Regions from separate parts of the Homo sapiens genome. Here region 1 is linked to region 2. The links come from fine-mapping of genetic effects on gene expression. A gene starts in region 2. The other region holds a variant in brackets. All regions are shown on one strand. Distances are between the middles of the regions. Region 1 has its middle 66 kb from the start of MARCHF10-DT. Region 2 holds the start of TANC2 (tetratricopeptide repeat, ankyrin repeat and coiled-coil containing 2).

The links.
Region 1: its variant is fine-mapped to the expression of TANC2 in monocytes after R848 (Quach 2016, PIP 0.92).

What each region holds. Positions count from the first base shown.
Region 1 is chr17:62,868,807-62,880,688 of GRCh38, reverse strand. No RefSeq gene overlaps it. Among named protein-coding and RNA genes, the nearest start is that of MARCHF10-DT, 66 kb to the right of the region's middle. RefSeq lists enhancers at 11,144-11,643, 11,644-11,882. The variant A/G (reference allele first, on the strand shown) is at 4,541.
Region 2 is chr17:62,960,042-62,971,923 of GRCh38, reverse strand. It overlaps TANC2 (tetratricopeptide repeat, ankyrin repeat and coiled-coil containing 2), which reads right to left and starts at 5,689. Exons shown (of 28, transcript NM_001394998.1): 1 at 5,175-5,689. RefSeq lists a silencer at 5,613-5,802.

The sequences.
Region 1 (11,882 bases), 91 kb after region 2:
CCATAGGGCAGGTGCACGTTCAAATTTATGAGAAACTACTACTGTTTTCCAAAGTGGTTGTACCATTTCACACTTCTATCAACAATGTATGAGAGTTCCAGTTGCTTCTGCAGGAGCAGAAAATCTCTACCCCCATCCTCTTAGGGTCCCTGTTGGGTCTGAGAATTAAACTGACTTAAGATGGATAAAGAGGAGAAAGGCATAATAAAAGTTTTATGTGGCACAAGAGTCCTCAGAAAGAAACAAAGACCTGAGGAAGAAGTTAGAGTCAGTTACTTATCTACTGAACTGGACAATAGTTAGTTGTGAAGAAGCAACTAAATTATGTGGGGAGGGTTAAATGATAAGAGTTATTTTGACAAGGTCTGTACAGAATTCTCTTGGTCTCTACTTCTTGTCCTTGAAGATAAGGCTGTTGCCTCTTCTCCTAGAATAGGGAGGGCATCTTCACACAGGAATTTCATCTTCTGCTTTTAAGAAACAGCATGAAGGTCAAAGTGATTTTTTTTCTTTTTTGCATCTGCTATTTTTCAAGTGCCTTTAGCTTAAATAGTTAATATGCCAGGGTAATATATTTTTAACTCTTTCACTCCATATCCTTGCCAAAATTTTGTGTTTGTAATTTTAGCCATCCTAGTAGTTGTGTAGAGATAGCCTGCTGTGGTTCTAATTTGTGTTTCCCTGATAATTAATGATGTTGAACACTTTAAAAAAATATCCTTATGGCCATCTGGATGGCTTCCTTTTGGAAGTGCCTGTTCAAATCTTTTAAAGATTTTTTTTTTAAAAACAGCTTTATTGAGATATAATTCAATTACCACACAATTCACCCATTTAAAGTGTACACTTCGAAGGCTTTTGGTATATTCACAGAGTTGTATATCCATTATTACAATCAACGTTGGAACATTTTCATCACTCCAAAAGAAACCCTGTACTCCGTAGCCATTGCCCCACAAACCCTTCATCATCCTCACCCCTAAGCAACCACAATTCTATTTTCTGTCTCTATATACTTGCCCATTCTGGACATTTCAAAAAATAGAATCGTACAATATGTGGTCCTTTGTGGCTGGCTTCTTTCATTTAGCATAAAGTTTCCAAGGTTCATCCAGATTGTAGTATGTATCAGCATTTAATTTCTTTCTTGCCAAATATTTAATTAAACAGATATAATTTTATTTATCCATTCATCAGTCGATGGAAATTTTGGTTTCCACTTGGTTTTATGGATAATGCTGCTATTAATGTTCATGTACCTTTTTGTGTGTAGATATGTTATCATTTCTCTGTGTATATATCTAGAGCAGAATTGCTGGATCATATGATAACTCTGTTTAGTTGTTTGAGGAACTGAAAGATTGTTTTCCAAAGTGGCTGCACCATTTTACATTCCTACCAGCAGTGTACGAGGGTTCCAATTTCTCCACATCATCACCAACTACCGACACTTGTTATTATGTCTTTTTTATTATAATCACCACCCGTCTAGTGGGTGTCAAGTGCCATCTTACTGTGATTTTGATTTGCATGTTTTCTAATGGACGTTTCTTCCTTCAAATCTTCAGTCTATTTTTAAAAATTGGGTGGCTTGTCTTTTGATGAATGAGCTTCAGTTTCCTCATCGATAAATTGGTGGTAATAATAACTGTGTAGCAGGGTTGTTGTGAGGATTAAATGCAATTAAATGTTAGTGACTTGTGGTTAGGAATCAGGCTTTCACTCATTACCATGGCCAGGGATGTCGGTCTTCTTTCCTGCCTCCAGCCATCCTTAGTAGGGATAGTGTGATCTCAAAAGGCATGAGGTTTGACGTTAGATTCCAGGTAGGAATTTTGGCTTTACTACTTAAAAACTTGTAATCTCAGGCAAGTTATTTAATGTCTCTAAGCCTCAAAGGTAAGGATACCTTACCTCTACCACACTCGACTAATGTGCAGATTAAATCACATGGCTTCTATTTAGTTCTTACCACATCAACTAGCAGATTGGAGATATTCAATATAAACTGTTGTTGCTACAAATGTTTCTTATATATGAGCGACCTCACAAGCCATGAGTAAACAGGGGAATTGGTATAACACAGATGTCATGTGGGTTCCTATGCACTTTTTTCCCCCAGCATGTAAATGTTTTGAAGCCAGGAGCCAGCTTTCTCACAATAACTACCTCTTTAATAAGAGGAAACCTTAGCACTCTATGGAGGCCTTAAGAAAAAGCTGAGAATACACACAGCTGCCTTCTTTAGCTGCAGGGACTGACTGATTTAGTGACTTGGGAACCACTATGCTGTTCTCTTGTCAAGTTTCTGGAAAAACTGAGGGTGCTGTTGAAGAAGCAGTGAAAACGTTTCTCTTTGTATTAGAAGGATGGGTTAGCGAAGAACACCGCTCTTTAAATCAAATGTTTAATTTTGATAAAACTGGTCCCTATTAGAAGCAAATGCCCTCCAGGGCCTATATCTCAAAGCAGCAGGAGGAGCCCTAGGGTTCAAGGCTGGGATGCGGTGTGCAAATGTTTGTGAAAGCTGAGGCTTACTGGGGTAATGTTTCATTAGTTTTGACATTGTTTTTGTGAGTGCTCTGGTTACAATTGCATAGTTTTTTTGTTGTTGTTTTTGTTTTTCATTTTGTTTTGTTTTTGAGACAGGGCCTTGCTCTGTCATCCAGGCTGAAGCGTAGTAGTGTAATCACAGCTCACTGCAGCCTCAACCTCCCCTGGCTCAAGCAATCTTCCTGCCTTAGCCTCCTGGGTAGCTGGGACTGCAAGTGTGTGCCACCATGCCTGGCTAATTGTGTGTGTGTCTGTGTGTGTGTGTGTGTGTGTGTGTGTGTGTGTGTGTGTGTGTGTGTAGACAGGGTCTCATGATGTTGCCCAGGCTGGTCTTGAACTCCTGGGCCCAAGAAATCTTCTGGCCTCACCCTCCCAAGGTGCTGGGATTATAGGCGTAAGCCACTGCACCCAGCCAGGTTTTGAGTAGACTGTCCCAACCCTATTTTTTTTTCCCCACCAACCCTGTTATTTTGGGGCTTGTGGCCATTTTTAGACCATGGAAGCTTTTCAGTAACACACAGATGGTGTTATAGCGAGACATCTATATACATTCCATTTCTCTCTAATGTTTTTTACATACTGTAAAAAATCCAAGCGATCATTGTCAAAGTATAATCTGTAGATACAAGTAGAATAATGAAAACAATGGCTCACATTGATTGTGCACTCTTTCCACATGTTAACTCATTTGATTGTCACAGCAGTCCTCTGAACTAGGGGCTATTACACCCATTTTCTGAATGTGGAAACTGACATCTCTCTGTAAGTAACACGAGTAAATTGAGCTTATGTAACACAGCCAAGGGCACACAGCTAGAAAATGGTGGAGTGAGAATTAAAACCTGTGCTTTTTCTATGATTTAAATTCATACGTCATATTGTTTTGTCATCTAAAAAATATGAATGGGATTATACTTCCATTGTTTCTTTAATGTAACAGGGCTATGCCTTGGTAGAATGCCTAAGTAAAGGAAAGCTGTTAGTGATTCACAGCTATTTACATTTCATAAGTCTCATGTTTCATTCCAAGAAATCAGGCTCATCAATTGTTTGCATTTGGTAACATCTTAATTATACAAATAATTAGCCTTGAGACTAGACATGAACATGAAAGTATAATGAATACTTTTGCTAATTGCTCTGTTCTGTTAGAGGACAGTCATTGGTCTGTAGCATTAACAGCTCCCACATTCAGCTTACTAAATTCTCCTAACTTTCACTTTGGCAAAAGGTCTAAATCAGGGATAACAGATTTCCTCTCTCATGCCTTTTCTAACCCATTGATCATGACTGCTGGGAGCACTGTGTTGAGAAGCTCCTGGGGCCTTCTCTGATGAGTCTGTGCCATTAGTGAGAGAGTACAGGTTGGCAGCAGGTGAGCCAGGTATTTGCCAACTCTGGCCTGAATGTTGAGAAGAGAACTTACCCCAACCTCAGAAGTTTTGGCATCATATTTTCTGCTCCCACTAACAATCCTACAAATATGCTGTGTTCTGTTGGTAGGGGGGTGGGTACAAAAGTGAGACGTGGATTCTGTTTGAATAAAAAAGGCATAAATGGCCTTATACAAAGTAAAACATGTGAAGTGCCCTGACAGTAACAGATACCAGGACAGAAGGGATCAGAGGCGGCAAAGGATTATTTATAGGAACAGGAAGGCAGGAGCAGAGATGGGGCAGAGAATGAATCCAGGGCTCCTTTTGAGGTGGGTCTCAAAAGATAGACAGACATGAGGGTGACAGTGAGGTGAAGTGAGCAGGGCTCAGCTTTTTTCCCATTTTTGGGCAGATGATGAATCACCTGCTATAGCAAGAAAGAAGGAAATGTGCAACAGGAGCGTGTGCAAGGGAAGAGCTTAATGTGGCTGGAATGTCAGAAAATAAAGGAAGGAAAAGTTGGGAAACAAGGGCAGGCCCAGGCTGTGAAGGGCCTGGGAACACCAGATTAGGAATGTTCTAGAACAATGTTTCTCAAGGTGTGTCCACAG[A/G]ATGTTCAGGGTTGTTATATAGCAAAAGGATCCTGTTGGACCCGGGTGTCAACTACATTTGAGAAACATTAAATTAAAAACAATGAAACAGATTTCTATACCTCAGGAGTTGGCAGAGTGTTTAAAATGCACGCTGTACACATTCAGAGCTAATGTACACTGTGAATCCCCAAGAAGGACCTGTAGTTTGCAAAAATCCCAAACACAGTCACCACAGAAATGTTTTCCTTGGAGCACTCACGAGCTGAGCATTGTGCAGGAGCTTTATGAAGGTGATGGCCATCTACTGGTGTGATACCCACAACCAGCATTAGCTGCTAATGGACCAAATGACTGATCTAGGAACCTGCGCTATTGTTGCAGGAATAGGGAGAGAATCGTTTGCCCCAAAGAAAGCATCAAACCCTCTTTTCCTGTTTCCACCCTGGTTCATTATCATAAGGATCTGTCTTCAACTTGCTGACCCTGTGCCCCCTTTTCAGCCATGGCCAGTTGTCCTGTTCTTTCTCCAGAGCTCAGTTCCTACCCTGATAAAACCTTGCCTTCCTTTCAGGCTTCTAGTGGTGCCCTGTTTTGAATCTCCCATCTGTCATCCTGGCTCCCAGACGTGCTGCCTGATGCCCCTTGACCCCTCCCCAGCCCGCCTGGACTCCTTCTTTGCCACTGCTCTGACCTCCACATACTTTGAGTGCTTTTGGTCCTCCTGGTAAACCTCACAATGTCCCGTCTCAAGCCACTCAGAACCCCAGTGTGACTGTGGCTCCAGCTCCTGCCACTTGTTCAGAGACAAAGGCACCTGTGTCTATCTTCTGAGAAGCTGGGCTCATACGTGCCTGATAAACATCCTCCTGCCACCTTTCCAGGTTGTGGTGGTTTCCAGGTGAGTTTCCATAAATCTGCTTGGGAGGGATGAGCAAGTCGCTTCTATATTTGACATGATTTAATTATCCCCTGTGGAAGGAAAAAATTTTAGCAATGACATATTTAGAGCCGCACTTCCAAAGAGCTTCAGTCAACTGGGTAAAATCGGGTGGGATCACACAACAATTTAGGAGTGTAATCTCTAGGCTTTTAGATGTCTGTTCAACAAGAAGCCGACTGTGAGGCCAGGCGCAGTGGCTCACACCTGTAATCCCAGCACTTTGGGGGCCCGAGGCAGGTGGATCATTTGAGGTCAGGAGTTCGAGACCAGCCTGGCCAACATGGTGAAACCCCGTCTCTATTAAAAATACAGAAATTAGCTGGGCATGGTGGTGCACAGCTGTAATGACAGCTACTCGGGAGGCTGAGTCAGGAGACTCACCTGAACCCAGGAAGCAGAGGTTGCAGTGAGCCGAGATCGTGCCACTGCACTTCAGCCTGGACGACCAAGTGAGTGAGACTCTGTCTAAAAAAAAACGAAAAACAAAAAACAAACAAAAAAATACAGACAGAAGCCAACTGGTGAGGTGCAATGAGGTTGGGTGAGTGGGCACAACTTTGGCAGATATACTTCAGTGGGAAATAAGAGTGACAAGGAGAAAAAGTACAAACTATAGAGGACGAGCTGCTGCCACTATGAACCAACGATTGTGACCCAGGAAAGGGACTTGGGACTCATTGCAGAGTGCTCAGGAAAGTGCTCTGGCGCCCAAAGGCGAACCAAGTTTGGGAAATTGTTAGAAAAAGTAAGGGGGTGAGGTAGGGGGGGTTGTAGGGAAAGAAAACATCACTTTACCTTTGTTTCTTTTTTTTTTTTTTTTTGAGACGGACTCTTGCACTGTCGCCCAGGCTGGAGTGCAGTGGCACAATCTCGGCTCAGTGCAACCTCCGCCTCCCGGGTTCAAGCAATTCTCCTGTCTCAGCCTCCCCAGTAGCTGGGACTACAGGTGCCTGCCACCATGCCCGGCTAACCTTTGTTTCTAACACAGACTGGAATGTGCAGTTCTGGTTGATACATTTCAAGAAAGAAAGCAGGGAGTTCACAAAGCATTTCAAGTGATTAAGGGGCTGGAGGGGCTTCTGTATGAGGTCAGGGTGAAGGCTGGAGGTTGACAGGATATACTGCAGTTTCAAGAATTATGAAAAGTACAGATAATGTGAAAATAGACCAAACCCCAGCTTATTAGAATGAAGACGCTGCATGGTCTCACTCATATGTGGAAGCTAAAAAAAAGTTGATCTCACAGAAGTAAAAAGTAGAACAGAGAATACTAGAGGACAGGAAGGGGAGGAGGAAGGGAGGGGTAGGGAGAGATTTGATAAAGGATACAAAATTACAGCTAGGTAGGAGGAGTAAGTTCTATTGTTCTACATCATTGTAAGATGGCTATAGTTAACAATAATATATTATACAGTTTCAAATAGGGAGAGGGAGGATACTGAATGTTACCAACATAGAGAAATGATAAATGTTTGAGATTATGAATATGTTAATTACCCTGATCTGATCATTATACATCATGTGTATCAAAACATCACTAGCTACCCCATGAATACGAACAACTACTATTTGTCAATTTAAACAATTTTTTTAAAGAAGAGGTTTCTTGAGATTTTCTCAAGATTTCAAGCAAGTTAAAAATGGTTGCTAAATGTATGGAACTCATTACCCCCCAAGAGGTAGAATAGGCTAAAAACAGAAATAGCTTCAAAAATTACTTACATAACGTTGTGATGGCTGGCACTAGCATATCATACTGAGGGAAATCTGTTTTAGATGGGATAAGGGAGGACATTCTTCCTAATACACAGCCCTTAGCCTCACTGTCAGCACCAGTGAAGATGTGGGGTTGGACGACGCACGACAGTTTTACTTAAAAAAAAAACAAGCAGGCCAGGTGCAGTGACTCACGCCTGTAATCCCAGCACTTTGGGAAGCCGACGTGGGCAGATCACTTGAGGTCAGGAGCTTGAGACCAACCTGGCCAACATGGTAAAACCCCGTCTCTACTAAAAATACAAAAAAAAAAGGCCGGGCACGGTGGCTCATGCCTGTAATCCCAGCACTTTGGGAGGGTGAGGAGGGAGGATCATGAGGTCAGGAGATTGAAACCATCCTGGCTAACATGGTGAAACCCCATCCCTACTAAAAATACGAAAAACTAGCCAGGCGTGTGGCGGGCACCTGTAGCCCCAGCTACTCAGGAGGCTGAGGCAGGAGAACTGGTTGAACCCAGGAGGCAGAGGTTGAAGTGAGCAGAGATCATGCCACTGTACTCCAGCCTGGGTGACAGAGCAAGACTCCATCTCAAAAAAAAAAAAAAATTAGCCAGGCGTGGTGGCAAACGCCTGTAATCCCAGCTACTCAGGAGGCTGAGGCAGGAGAATCGTTTGAACCCAGGAGGTGGAGGTTGCAGTGAGCTGAGATTGCACTACTGCACTCTAGCATGGCAACAGAGTGTGACTCTATCTCAAAAGAAAAAAAAAAGGAAGATTGTTTATATGAATATGCATGCTATCAGTTATCAGGTGCCTACCTAATATTAGGCACCAGGCTAGGCACTTTTATATACATTATCTTTTATCTTTACATAGTACTAGACGATATAATAATAACCCCATTTCATAGATGAGAAAGTGAAGCTCAGCCAAGTCACTCGCTTGAGGTCACACACAGCCAGTAAATGGGGAGCTGGACTTGAAACCTGTGCCCAGGCTGGAGCGCAATGGCATGATCACGGCTCATTGCAGCCTGGACTTCCCAGGCTCAGGTGATTCTCCCACCTCAGCCTCCTGAGTTACTGGGACTACAGGCATGTGCCACCACGCCTGGCTAATTTTTTGCATTTTCAGTAGAGTCGAGGTTTCGTCACGTTGCCCAGGCTGGTCTCAAACTCTTGGACTCAGGCAATCCACTTGCCTTGGCCTCCCAAAGTGCCGCATTTAACAGGCATGAGCCATCAGGCACGGCCATGTGCATTCTCTTTTTATTATTATTATTATTATCATCATTATTATTGAGACAGAGTCTTGCTCTGTCACCCAGGCTGGAGTGCAGTGGCACAATCTCAGCTCACTGCAACCTCCACCTCCCGGTTTCAAGTGATTCTCCTCCCTCAGCCTCCTGAGTAGCTGGGATTACAGGCGTTTGCCACCACGCCCAGCTAATTTTTGTATTTTTAGTACAGATGGGGTTTCACCATGTTGGCCAGGCTGGTCTCGAACTCCTGACCTCAGGTGATCCACATACCTCTGCCTCCCAAAGTGCTGCGATTACAGGCATGAGCCACCGCACCTGGCCTGCCATACTTTTGATCAATGCAATACTGCCTCTCATCTCACCCGTTTCTTGGGTTTTTCTGTCCCTCATGCCTAAATTTAGTCTAAGGCTACCAGCCAAAATTCCAAAAATGGTGCTTTTGTCCTTTGCTCGTTGCTGAATAAACTGACCTCAGTCATTTATAGGACCAGTACATTTGTTCATATTCCTCAAAAGTCCAAAGTACCCAGCAATGGAGAGGGGGCAGCTGGGTTCCTGAGGCTGAAACAAGAGGGGAAATGGGAGGAGCTAATATCCAGGGCCCAATAGGGGTCAGGCATTTCACACGTTCCGCCATGTAATTCTCATAATACTCACTTAGATTCCCATTCTAGAGTTGAGAAGACCGAGTCCCAGAGAGATTATGTGAAATACCTAAGAACCCATAGTGCATAGACAGCAGACCCAGAATGTGAAGCTGGATCTGTCTCATGCCAAAGTCCCTTGGAAGCCAGGACAGAGCATTCCAACTCTGCTCTCCTTCCTTCTAGGAAGGTCGGCTTACAAATTCCTTCCATTGCCACAACTCCAAAGGGTGCTCTGCCCAACACTTTTGCTGGTGGGGGCCCAGGAGTTCCTTGCTATACAGAAATTTCGGTTGGAATGATATCTGTTGAATGGGTTTTGATCTGTCCCACCCTTTACCTTGTGAAAATTTTTTCTCGTCAGCTGTCATGCTAGCTTTTTTTTTTTTTTTTTTTTAACAAGACAGATATTCTGATTTCTCTAACTTGGGATTTCTCCACTTTGGGATATTGACATCAGGGGCAAGACACTTCTCTGTTGTTGGAGGCCACACTTTGCATTGTAGGATGTTTAGCAACATCCCCGGGTCTCTGCCCACTAGACAGATATTGGTAACATCCCCCTCCCCATCAGTTGTGACAACCAAAAATGTCTGCAGGCCTTGCCAAAGGTCACCTGGGGGGCAAAATCACCTCTAGTTGAAAACCACTGCTGTAACAGTAGAGGGGGTGCTGCATGATCTTTGTGCCCTTGTACCTAAAACTCAACAAGCCAATTCACCCCATCCCGGCCTCCCCAACCCCCTAAGGAATGGAAGCCGAGGAGAGATGACACCTGTGGGTGGAGTCTGGATTTTCTGGTTTGGGAAGGGATGTAGCACACAGATTGCTGGCCCTGTACTTACTTGATGCCCCCACGAGACGTTAAAAATGTAGAGCTTTCCACGTGCAGATGGCTCGAGCTGCTTAATTACCAACCGAAAGCATGCTAACATTTTCCTCTCTCTCTCCTTGCCTAAAACAGCCCGCCAGGAACAGCAGAGGCTTTAACAACAGGGAGCAGTTGCCCTTTCTGCATCCTTATCACACACTAATTATTTTATTCTAAAGAGACAAAGTAGAGAGAATGTAACATATGATTCTGATGACAAACACTTTCTTAAAAAAAAAAAACTGTCGGCTTTTTCTAGTGACTAGAGCATAGGAGCTGGTTGCTAAGCAACTGGGAAACGGCAGACTCCTGTACTGGCCATGCTGGTTTCGGAAATGAGCCATAAAAGGAATTCCCCAGTGAGAAGGGATCCCATACCATTGCCTGGTTGCCATGGACACCATACATAAGTGATGGATCCTGGGTTACAGGCCCTGCTTAAGAAAAATATGTTGCCTCTGTTTAAGGCTTGAATGGTATGAGAACAGCATAGAAGCCCTCTTCCCCTGTGTTATCCATGGGGGCATGTCCCGGTCCCTTCCCCATGGGCTTCCCCCAGAGAGGTCTGAATCTAAGTGGCTGAAACATTCCATCCAATTTCAGCTCTGCTTTTATTTAATGTGTTCCAGGCTTTGCTGGAGTTGGAAAGGAGTCTGCAATCTGGAAAGCAAATTTTTAAGCAAGAAAAGATGCTTCGGGTGGCAGACAGGCTGTCTGTCTATCATCCACCCCTGTTTGGGGGCCACACAGAGCCAAGATCAGGCACAAGGGCAACTCTCTATGTTCACACGTTCTATTGGAGTTTTGCAAAACAAGAGAGATTAGCAGAGAAAAAGACAATAGCCGTGACTCCAAAATGAAATTGGCATGTCATGCAGAGCAAGGCACACAATAAGCCATTACAATTCTGTCAGAAATTAGAAACAGACTTCAGATAATAGGAGTGAAAAATGTGAGGCAAATATAAAGATACGGAACTTAAAATACGAAGTACAGGTTTCACTAGGCTTCCTATGGGAAACAGAACAGGACAGATACGCCTTAACATTATCGACCCTATGCTATGAATAGGACACTTGGGACACTAGACTCCTACCCTAGGTGTCATGAGGATACGGGGGCCCAAAGAATGACAGTAATTTGCTCAAGGCCATAGAAGATAAAATGTTGCTGAATGGTGGTCCATAGAGGACAATTCTGTGTTTTATTTTTTATTTTTGGAGATGGAGTCTCATGCTGTCACCCAGGCTGGAGTGCAGTGGCACAATCTCACCTCACTGCAACCTCTGCCTCCCGGTTCAAGTGATTCTCCTGCCTCAGCCTCCCGAGTAGCTGCGATTACAGGTGCCTGTCACCACGCCTAGCTAATTTTTTGTATTTTTAGTAGAGACAGGGTTTCATCATATTGGTCAGGCTGGTCTCGAACTCCTGACCTCATGATCCGCCCAACTCAGCCTCCCAAGGTGCTGGGATTACAAATGTGAGCCACCGTGCCTGGCCCAATTCTGCCTTTTAAATATCACTGCACAACAAATGACCCCAAAACTTAGCAGCTTAAAACAGCAAACATTTATTATCTCACAGTTTCTGTGGGTCGGGAATCCAGGAGCCTCTTAGCTAGGTGCCTCTGACTTGGGTGTCGGAAGGGCCACAGCATCCCAAGGCTCCTCTGGGGGAGGGTCTGCTCCCAGCCCTGTGCCTGTGGCTGCTGGTGGGCCTCAGATCCTCCCTGGCTGTTGGCTGGAGACTTCAGTTCCTTGCTCTGTTGCTCTCTCAGTCAGAGAGTTTACAACAACATGGCAGCTGGCTTTCCTCAGAGGCAAAAAGCAGCCAAGACAGAAACAGCAGTCTTTTAAAATCTAAGCTAAAAGTGACATCCCATCATTTTTGCTGTATTTGTCGAGTCACTAGGTGCAGCCCACACTG
Region 2 (11,882 bases):
AATTTTTCCAGAGGGTAGGGGGGCAGAGATGGTTTGGGGATGAAACTGTTCCACCTCAGATCATCAGGCATTAGATTCTCATAAGGACGGACAACCCGGATCCCTCTCATGAGCAGTTCACAATAGGGTTCAAGCTCCTATGAGAATCTAATGAAGCTGCTGATCTGACAGGAGGAGGTGCTCACACAGTAATGCTGGCTGGCCAGCCACTCACCTCCTGCTGTGCACCCTGGTTCCAAACAGGCCATGATGGTCCAGGGGTTAGAGACCCCTGCTCTAAAAGAAAGAAAACTGGCTGGGCACAGTTGGCTCACACCTGTAATCCCAGCACTTTGGGAGGCCAAGGCAGGTGGATCACTTGAGTCCAGGAGTTTGAGATGAGCCTGGACAACAGAGTGAAACACTGTCTCTACAAAAAGTACAAAAATTAGCTGGATATGGTGGCACGTGCCTATAGTCTCAGCTACTCAGCAGGCTGAGGTGAGAGGATCGCCTGAGCCCAGGAGACGTAGGCTGCAATAAGCTAAGATCACACCACTGCACCCTACCCTGGGAGACATAGTGAGATCCTGTCTTGAAAAGAGAAAAGAAAGGGAAAGCGAAGGGCAGCAGGAGACTGCTGAGTGGGAAAACACAGCTCTAGTCTTTAAGCTCTTCTTTAACCTATTTCTCTCCGTGGCCTTTTCAAGAAACTCATCAGGGATATACACTCTGCATCACCATACACACATCTCCTTAACTCATTTTTTTTTTCATTTTAAACGGTCTTCATCTAATGCAAGTTACTACAAAAGACGCTATTCAAAGAAACCAAGCGGTATTCTCACGGTATTACAACGAAGTCTAAACTATTTATTTGTATAGTATATTTACAGAGTGCCTTTCCCTCAAAATAATCACAGCATTTGATGACTACAGGCACATTAAGCAAATATAACAATGCTGAGTCTCAAGTCATTCAGAAAGAAAAAAAAAGTCCAAATAATTGAACTAGCTTCCAAACTATTTTATAATATTTGGTGCCTTGATTAGACTAGTACTAGAAGAGTAAACAGCCCTCTGCAACAGCTTGTTCTAGCTCCCTGAATTAAAATCTGCATATTGTACTGTCAGCAAAAATATCCCAGCTAACATTGGTGATTCTGGGTAAGTTCAATCCAACAATATTCAGCTAGTGTGCCCAATCAGAGTGTCTCAGATCTCATTTTAATTCTACTGTAAAAGGAAGAAATATGACAAGGAGAGGATTTTCATGCATTTCTTTTATGCACACTTGTTCTACCATATATTCAATCAGTACCAACTACCCTAATAGTCCCCTTTGAAATGACTGGATTAGTATACTCCTTTCTAGGGTCTCCTTCCCTCTCCATTCAAAATAATTCATACTCACTTAAGAAATAAAGAGCAAAGGCAGTTATGGGGAAAAGAAGAAAAAACAGAGCTAGCGTGGGACAGTCAAGAATTCATGATGGAAGAGGGAAATAATCTATTAATGTTTAACAATGTTAGTAAAATCCTAATTTGCAAACCAAATTAAGTTTTACAAGTGAAGTATGCTAAAATGAACTACCAACCAGTAACCAATACAAATACAAAGCATAGTCTGAGTGTATGACAATTTATTAAATATATTAAATTACGTAAGCATATATGCTGAATAAGTTTTAGCCATAAGCAGTAGATTATATTGAATTCCCATATCAACAAATGTATATAAAAAGGGAAGTGTTTGGTTACATGAGATATGCAATTCGCAGCACAATAAGGAAAGGTTTCTGTTGAAAAAGAATGGCAGAAGCAATTTGGCTAAGAGAAGAAAATAACTATTATAATTGTGAAAGATGATGTTCCATTTCTTAAACTGGGTAAAAGGCATGTAAGTGTTGGCTGCATTGTGAAGTCTTTATATTTTACACATTTTTATAAATACTTTGTCATATGTGGTCAATATCTTATAAAACAATGTTTAAGTGTGAGAAAAATCTGAACAAACATTTGTTGACATTAGAGGTAAAATGTACATAGGCATCTAATCCATTTGTGCTAATTATGGTAGTTTTTAATATAAATGAAAAAGAGGTCATAAAAATATGAGTAGGAAGAAAAATATTGTAATTTATCCTTAATTTCCCTACAGAAAATAAGCAGTAAAGGTTTACTGGTGCTCTTAAAAAGGCTGTGTGTGTGTGTATGAATGTGTATTTATATACACACACACACACACACACTATATTAAACTACTTGAAATTAACTTTTTACCTCTGAAGTTCCCTTCAAACCAACCACCATCACAAATATTTCCTTAACCACATAAAAAGTACTAATACTCCTCTACGCATAATCCCAGAAATAAGTTAAAAAACAAATTCCTAAAGAGAAATGTTCACACTGCAAATAACTGTATCTTTTGTATATATGCAGACTTAACATCTATGTGAGTTGTCCAGGTTTATCCACATCTATTGTACTTGCTTTATGATGGGCACATGCATTTTAATTATGCCTTGCCAATACTACCTTGAGTGAGAGGGCAATATAGCATATTGATGAGGAGCACAGGTTCTGGAGCTAGCATTCCTAAATGGAAACTTAGCTCTTCTACTTCTCAGCTATATAGTATTGGGCAAGTTATTTAACCTCTCTGTGTTTCAGATTCTCATCTGTAAAACAGAAATAACAACACATACCTCATAGGGTGTTGGAACTGATTAAAACAACGTACAACGGGACTGGCAAAGAATAGGTGCTACATAAATGTGAGCTGTTACTACTAGTACAGCTGGCCCTTGAACAACATGGGCTTAAACTGTGCTGGTCTACTCCTATGCAGATTTTTTTCAAGCAATACAGTATTCATGGGATGCAAAAACCGAGTATATTGAGGGCCGACTTTTCCCTATACATGGTTCCATACACCAACTGCGGGATTTGAGCATGCAAGGATTTTGGCATATGTGGGGGTCCTGGAACCAATCCCCTGCATACAATAAGGGAAGAATGTAGTAGTAATTGTATTGCACCCTCTTCCTGAAAGTACCAAAAACATTCTTAAGCAATCTGAATTCCTAACATCAAATGCTACCTATATTTAAAATAGACACCAAATCTGAGGCCTGATTAACAGTAAGTTTAAAGCCCTTCAACTCTGAAGAAAATAGGTGATTCACAGATCTACATAATACTCTATCAAGAACAATCTGAGAGGACTGGTTCCCCGAGCGCAACTATCAATTTCTTCCCTTACACAAGGGGGCAGTGATAACAAGAAAAGAATCGGGCTCTGTAACACCTCTTCCTACAGACAGTAGGGGGTGGCAGTACATATGGCTTACAGTCAGAACAAAACAGGAAGACCCAACAGAATTCTCTTTATTCTCCTCTGGCCCTTTCCTCTGTTCTTCAGCCCCAACAGCTTCTCAAGGTAAGGGACATATCTACAGAAAAGACTAAAACCCAAAATCAATCACCAAGGAAAATCTATTTTTGTCTTTGAAGCAAATGATCCCTCAATGGCTGAATTTGGATCTAAGGGAAAGCCAATCAGTATGAATTTTCAGATTATCTGGCAAATTACTATAATGAGAACAGCATTCACACATGTAATTTAATTTCTTTACAAGAATTATAACATAAAACATTAAAATCTCATCAATAATTAAGTACATTCTAACGAACACATTTCCATATTTCTGCTTTTGTTATATAGTATATTCACACTCATTGTATGTATACATATAAGTTACATTAAATAGATCATGGAGTTGTCTTTTGTTACTTCTGAAATTCCAGCTATGTTCTGACAATCCTCTCGAAACAGATGTTCTTAAATGGAAGTCACAATGTTTTGCAGCATGTTGGTAATTTCTTATGTATGTATAATATACATGCACATATATCTATATAGAGACATAAATAAATATCTAGATACAGAGGGGAGCAAGAGAGAGGGAGAAAGAGAATGTTTAACGTTTTATTTCGTGCTCACATCCCTAAGAGGATCTACCTGGGAAATGCTGCAAGAAGCACTCCACTGACAGTATCCATGTTGTTGCTTTTTATGCCAATTTACTGTATTCTTTTTTTTTTTTATTTCACCATCCCAACACCAAGAACATACAAGAATATTTTAGTACTGCCGTTCTCTATAATTAACCATTGTGATAGATACTGGCTCCAACCCCTCAAAATGCCTGAAAATCTATCCCTTTTGTTCACCACACTGCTTTGTTTTCCTCATTACAGATATTTTCACCTGTGTAAAAATCAGGAAAAGGGCACATACGAAAAATACTTCCCTTTGCCTAATGATCTTTAACTCATAATTATGGTCAAGACGTTTGGGGTTTTGTTTGTTTCTTTTCCTGGAGAGGAGCAGAGAAGAGAGTGAAAGACACCCGAAACACCAAATCTTCTTCCTAATGTTAATTATCATTGTTTATGTTTTGTGAAGACCATTCTAAACATTCCACACCTGGAAATGAAGACTGGATACAATTGTACCAATGCTCTACACGCTGATGGCAAAACCTGGAATTATTTTAGCCCTATTTTTTCTTTCCAATCTCACAGCCAGACACAATTTGCTTTTTTTCTTTCACGTGGTTACTTTCTCTACCTCAAAAAAAATAGCTTATCATAGCTCCTCCCGATTTCCTATGGCAAAATATCTAGCAATGAGCCTTATTAATCTTTTATTATGCTACACCTCCTTTCCCAGAGGAATTATTAATATCGCTAATAACACTTCGACCATGAATTTCAACGCCACAGAGGCCAGCCCATCCTGTGCCTTACCTGGCACATTTCGCAACTACTTTTATGCTGCATTCTGGGGGCACATTTTGCAACTCGTTCTGCACCACATTCCCTGCCACGTTTAGCAATCCGCCTCGCATCTTATCCTTGGTCCCCGTCATCCAGAGACGCTCTAGGTACCAAATTCCATGACATCTTCGGTGACAGCCAAGTGGCGACCCCACACGCCTCTGAAGCCCGCCTTGGTGTCATATTCGGAGCCAGCCTTCCCCACGCCTTGGACACCGAGGCACTTCGCTGCCCATTTCGCCGTCTCCCCGCTCGCCCCCGCCCCTCTCCCCGGAGCCGAGGCTGTGGAGGCGAACGACCCTGTCACTGAAGCGACCTTTCCTCGCCCTGCTCCCCGGGCCCCTTACCTGCCGCTCTGAGGGGCTCTCTGCACCTCCGGGTCAAGCCCCAGTCCCCGGGGTCTCCTGTGAGGACCGCGCCGCCCGCCGGCGCCGCCCGCGATTCCCGGAGCACCTCGCAGTCCTCCAACGCCCCGCGGCGAGTCTGCACCCCGGAACGGCGCGGCGGGGCCTCGCAGCCGGCGAGCGCAGCCCGCGGCGGTGCTCCTGTCAGCGGCGGCTCGGGGGCCAGCTCTCGCCCCTCGGCTCGGCTCGGCGGCGGCGGGCGCCTCGCTCCGCCTAGCGCGCGGCACAGCCGGGAGGTGAGCGCGAGGGGGATGGGAATGGGGGCGGGGCCGCCCGAAGGAGGCGCGGAGGGCGGTGGCGGCGGGAGGGCAGCGCCAGCGGCCCTAGGCCGGGCGCTCGGAGCGCTCGCAGCTTCCCCCGCCGGGCGGGCGGCTCGCGCGAGGCGGCTGTGCCAGCGGGCCCCGCCGGAGCAGCGCGCCCAGCAACCCGCGCCCCGCCGGCCGCTCGCTAGCGCCGCCGCCGCGCTGGGGGCGTCGCACCCTCTGAGGCCGCCCGCAGCCCCGCCCCCTCCGGGCTGGGGTGGGGAGGGGCGCGAGCGCGGAGGGAGCGCGCGTGCGTGGGGGCGCGTGCGTGGTGGAGCGCGCGCGCCCCCGCCCCTTCCACAGTTTGGGGGTGGGGAACGGCTGGAAGAGGGAGTGGGGACGCAGCCCTCCTCCGCGCGGAGAGACGGGGCCCTGGCTCTGGCGCTCTGGGATGTCCTGGCATTTCTCGTATCCCCGGGGGGCTCGGACTTGTGGGTGGCATTTGGAGGGGCAGCAGGGAGGACGCTCGGTAACTGACAAGGCCCTACATAGTTGGGCTCCGCCCTCAGGGGTGATGTCACTCTCGAGGTGGCTGCTGCTGTCACGTGCGCCCATTTCAGGGCCTGTCCTCCTGCTTTGATGACCGGAATGCTCTCCTAGATCTCCCCCACTTCGGTCACCTCAGGCACATATCACTCTGAGAGTCCTCGAAGCCTACAAGTGTCAGTTATTCTTTCCCGGATTCTCAGTGGTAGTTTGTAGACGACTTCAAAAGGCCACGGTTGGCTGTGGGGAGAATCAGAATGAGAAAGAAAAACAAAACAACAGTGGGGTTTGTGGGGAGACCGAGACTGTTATTTAGAATAATGGCTGAAAATTCACCAACCACAGCTTGCAAACCTGAGGTAAAGTCGTGGCGCTGCTTCTGTCACTGCCAGGTTGACTAAGAAGTAGCGTGGTTTTAAGAGCTGGTCGACAAGGGCGGGAAAGCCACCACATTAATACCTCGTCGAACGATGTTAGGTCATATTTCACCCTCCACCTAGATCTTCTTCCCCTCTACTGTTTCCCTCCTATCATAAAACAGCAAGTCGGCTGTGGGAGGTATTTGGGACATAAACATCATCGCGTGCTGCAAGATGATGCGAAGCAATCACCGTTACCAACTCTGCCCGGCTCGCCTTCCCTTCCATAAACTGAGATGACCTTTCGTGGTCATCCAACTTCTTAATCAGATGACATGATTGGAAATAGATGCGCCAAATTACATCAATCAAGGAAGCTCTGTCTGTGGCGCTTCCAAGGTAGAGAGGTTTGTTTGATAACAGCACTTTAATCTGCCCCATCCTGTAGCACTTCATCCAGGAGTTTCTTCGATTTTCAAAAATTAGTATTAATTTCAGAACAATACAAGAAACTGGATATGAACATGTCCATCCAACAGCTCTTCTTTACAGTGAATGCTTGCAAAGTCAGAGCTAGAGCAGCTTTGAATAATACAGCTAACATGGCAAGGTGAAGGGCTGACATATGGAATCTTTTGGTGTTAACTCCAGAAAGTTAGATTAATCTAATGAAAACCCATCTACCTATGGTATTAGAGGCAAGGTAGTGATTACTTACAGGGGAATTGATTGAGAGGGGACAGGAGAGAGCCTTCTGGTTTGCTGGAAATATTCAATATCTTAATGGTTACCCGGGTGTATACATATGCAAAAAGATCTGTGCACTTCATGTCAGTTTTTTAAAATCACATACACACAAAGAAGCATTACAATGTCATCATCACTGCAGTCGGAAAACCTCAGTTTGAATCTCAGTGTCACCCAACACTTACCTGCTGTGTGACCTTGAACAGGTCTCCGGACCTTCCTTTCTTCATCTGTCTAACGTGGGTGATATTAATACTTACCTCACAGATGGATGTAAAGATGAAACAAAATTTTGGAAAATACTTAGCACAAATCCTGTTACACAATAAGGACTCAGGAAACAGGAGCTATTATGTTATCCTTCTTACACTTGAATTTACCCTATTTAATTCTCCTTCGGTCTTTTTTTTTTTTTTTTTTAAGATTACTTTCTATCTAAGCCTTTCCCTGCGAGTTCCACTGAGGCTAATAACATTCCTTCTCTGAGAAATAACAAAAGGCAGTCAGGGGTGTAATGTTGGTTTTCAAACTAGTTCAGGTGGCAGTCTCTAGAAATTATGGTGCTCAACGTGGAGCATCATGAAATACAGATAGATTTAACTCTGCCATATGGAATTGACACAATTTTACAAGCACTAAATCTGGCAATTTTATGGTTATGCAAATCTCCACATAATCACATAATAAAAAAATGGGGGCTTTTTGTTGTTGTTGTTGTTCTTTTTTTTTGAGATAGAGTCTCGACCTGTCACCCAGGCTGGAGTGCAGTGGTGCCATCTCGGCTCACTGCAACCTCCGCCTCCCGAGTTCAAGCGATTTTTGTGCCTCAGCCTCCTTCCCAAGTAGCTGGGATTACAAGCACACACCACCACCCCTGGCTAATTTTTGTATTTTAGGTACAGATGGGGTTTTGCCATGTTGACCAGGCTGGTCTCGAACTCTTGACCTCATGTGATCCACCCAACTTGGCCTCCAAAAGTGCCAGGATTACAGGCGTGAACCACTGTGTCCAGCCAAAAAATAATGTGTTTTTAAGAAATAATATGTCTGTGTTTTTCTCTTTAAATTTATTTGCAACTTTTTTACAAGGTAGGAAGTACCAAAAAATTAATAATAATTCACAAAATGAAAACCTTTAAACCCATTTTTCCTGGAAATTAGAAAAACACTGTAATTGTTCAATTTTAGCAACAGAGCTCTTTATTGGATTTACCCACAGTAAGATCTGATAGCTGTAACCCACATGGTCCCCTGCGCTGATAAAGTGAGTAACTCTGACTCACTGTCCTCACCATACTTCCAAAGATCAGTCACCACTTCTTTTAGCCAACCTTTCCCAAATCCCATTTTCATGTGGGCAGTGTCCAGGAATGAACTCACTGCTTCGCTCTTTTGATCATCCACCATCCTTCTATTCTGCCAATTCTCTTCCAGGTCGTTCTACTGTCCAGTCTTATAATTTGTTGCCACACTCTAACTTTGAGGAGGAAACAATATGTCCCTGACAGAGTTGTGAGTGGGGTATAGTAGGGACAGAGAGCAACATTGCAGCAAGAAGCCACCTCTGTTCTCAACTCCTCTCCCTGATTCCCTTTTCTGTCACTATTACCTGAAATCCTGAGAATACTAATTTTATTACCTACTAAAAATCCATTCTAGTAAAGATGTTAGTCTATAACTTAAATTTGGAAATGTAACGTATGCCGTGTAATAAGAACCTGCAAATAATTGTTCATAATGTAGCCCATCCTTGCCCTATACCTCCCAACATTTTAGCATCATCTGTATCATTCAAAATGCCCTTTCTTGCCCTTTCAACTCTGCACTATCACCCACCTCTGCATATGGTGTCTTCCCTGGCTACCTCTAAGTCTCTCTTTCTTTCTTTCTTTCTTTCTTTCTTTCTTTCTTTCTTTCTTTCTTTCTTTCTTTCCTTCTCTTCCTTCCTTTCTTTCTTTCCTTCTTTTTTGACACAGGGTCTCACCCTCATCACTCAGGCTGGAGTGCAGTGGCACCATCATGGCTCACTGCAGCCTCTATTTCTCAGACTCAGGTGACCTTTCCACATCAGCCCCCTGAGTAGCTGAGACCAAAGGTGCATGTCACCATGCCCAGCTAATTTTTTATATTGTTATAGAGATGGAGTCTCGCTATGTTGCCCAGGCTGGTCTCGAACTCCTGGGCTCAAGCAATCCGCCTGCCTCAGCCTCCCAAAGTGCTGGGATTACAGGCATGAGCCACTGTGCCCAGCCCTCTATGTCTCTTAAGTAAACCATCAGGTTCACCTTTTTCTACCCTTTTCCCTCAACTCTCTCTCCCTAAATAAAAAGTCATACCACCCACCACTGAGTGATCACCTACTGGCAGCAAATATTTCACCAGCTACTTTATATGCACAACCTCATTTAATTCCCACAACATCCTATCAGATAAGTATTATCTTAATTTTTTGGATGAGGGGGGTTCTGAGAGGTTAAATAACCAGCCCAATTTTACACTGAATGATGCGTAGAGCCAAAAACTGAACCTAGACATAAACTTTATTCTCTATCAGTTACCCTGAGGAGATTGCCATATAAAGTGTAAAGGAGAACAAAGATTACATATTTTTTAAATGTGGGTTGCCAGTTGCTCATGCCTGTAATCCCAGAGTCTCAGAAGACTGAGACAGGAGGATCACTTGAGGCCAGGAGTTCGAGGCCACAGTGAGCTATAATTGCACCACTGCACTCCAGCTGGGGCAACAGAGTAAGACCCCCCACTAAAAAAAAAAAAAGTGAGCCATGTCACACAATGGAAGCATTTCTGAAAGGTTGATGTAAATGAGATTTTTGTCATTGATTGTTTTTCATAATCTCATTTCTTGTTGATCTGTAATTAATGACTTACCCAATAGCTTCAACATTTTCCCCACCAACTCTACCTCAGCCTTTTGATGAATATTTAATATTTCTAGATGAACACTTAAAAACATTTCCACATAGAGGAGCTACTACTTAAAAGAAGTTTCTAGTAAATCCCTTTTTTGTAAAATGAAAAATGCATGTAAAATGTGAATAAACAAATGCTCATATATTTTTACATTGACATTTATAAATGTTTGACAAGTATTTGCACCTACTGTTCGTATATAGCTGTGATAAGTGCCATAGGGCATATAGAATTGATTTGAGGAAAGTCTTGCCTACTTAACTGTCATAATCTATTTGAGAAACAGAATGCTTAAAACATTTAAATATATAATATAGCATATTATAGAATTAAGTCTGAACATGAATAAAACAGCAAGTTCTGTAATTAATTACAAGAAGGAGGGATACAAGTTTGACTGGGATGGTATAGAACTGCTTCTTGAGAAAAGCAGAATAGAAAAAAGAAATGGTTGGAAAGAAGGAAGGAAGGGCCCTGAGAGCTCAACGAAAGTCCAGAGGAGGGAATGAATACGACAACCTCTTAAGTCAAAGAATGGATCTCTTTTAAAGATGAGTTGCTTTCTTAATAAAGACATGAACTCAGCTGCCATTAGGACACGTTCTCTCTCTCATTTCTGACCTTTTGTATTAGGCTCTCTCTCTCTTCTCATTCTACATTTGAGCATTTTCTCTGTTTCTCAGGCTCATGTGTTGTAAAATACATCAGCTAACAGCATTCACAGATTTAGCTAGTAAGGAGAGACTGACTTGATTCTCTGGATATAGAGTACAAAAATTCCAGGAAGGGCTCTGATTGGCCCAGCTTGGATCAAGAGCTCTCTTGCAGCCAATTCCAGGGGTGTACATTATAAATTGTGCAACATGTGTTTAAGTATGAATGCATTTATTTTTTCTGAAGAGGGAATCCATTGGTTCCATTAGATTCTCAAAGGAAGGGATTTGTAACTCAAAAGTAGCAAAGAGCTACTACAAATACAAAATATGCCAAAACCATCTCTCATTCTTCTCTCCCAAAGCAGCCCTTCTGACTCCCCTGCTCTGTCACTGATACTCCAGTCTTCTAGACTGCTAGACTTGTTACCTTGTTGTGTTTTGATACTTCTCTGTTCTTTGCTCCCTGCATTTAGTTATTCAGTAGATTATGTTAATTTTTCCCATGCAGTGGTTTTAGAACTATTCTTTTCTGTTTCCACAGGCACAATCCTTGACTATCAGCTGTCATCTTCTTTAGCTCACTAAATAGTAACATCTTCTTAACCAGATTCTTACCAGTTGTCCCTCCCTGCTCAAATCCACCTTATTAGATGAGTGTTTTAAACTCTGCCTTTCTGTCATTCTCCTGCTGAAAGACTCCACGATGTTTCCTTTCCTGGGCAGTAAGAAACACCCTGTGCAGTCTGGTCCAGGCCCATCTTTTTAACCTTTTACCAACTGATGTCTTTTCTCCTTGTTAATAAATGCTCTCCTATTCAGCCACACTTGTTGCTCAACGATCTGTTCTTTAAACGTGAAATGTGTCTATTTGTAGTTCACATCAATGTTTGTCTTTATTAAGAAAACAACTCATCTTCAAAAGAGGTCCATTCTTTGACCTAAGAGATTGGTCCCTTCCTTCTCTACTCCATCCATTTCTTTTTACTGCTTTGCTTTCCTCAAGAAAGCGAAGAACTCAAGAAGAAGTTCCATACCATCCCAGTCAAACTTGTATCCCTCCTTCTGTGATTTATTACAGAACTTACTGTTTTACTCATGTTGACACTTAATTCTATAGTATACTGTATTACATATTATATATTTAAATGTTTTGAGCATCTTGTTTCTCAA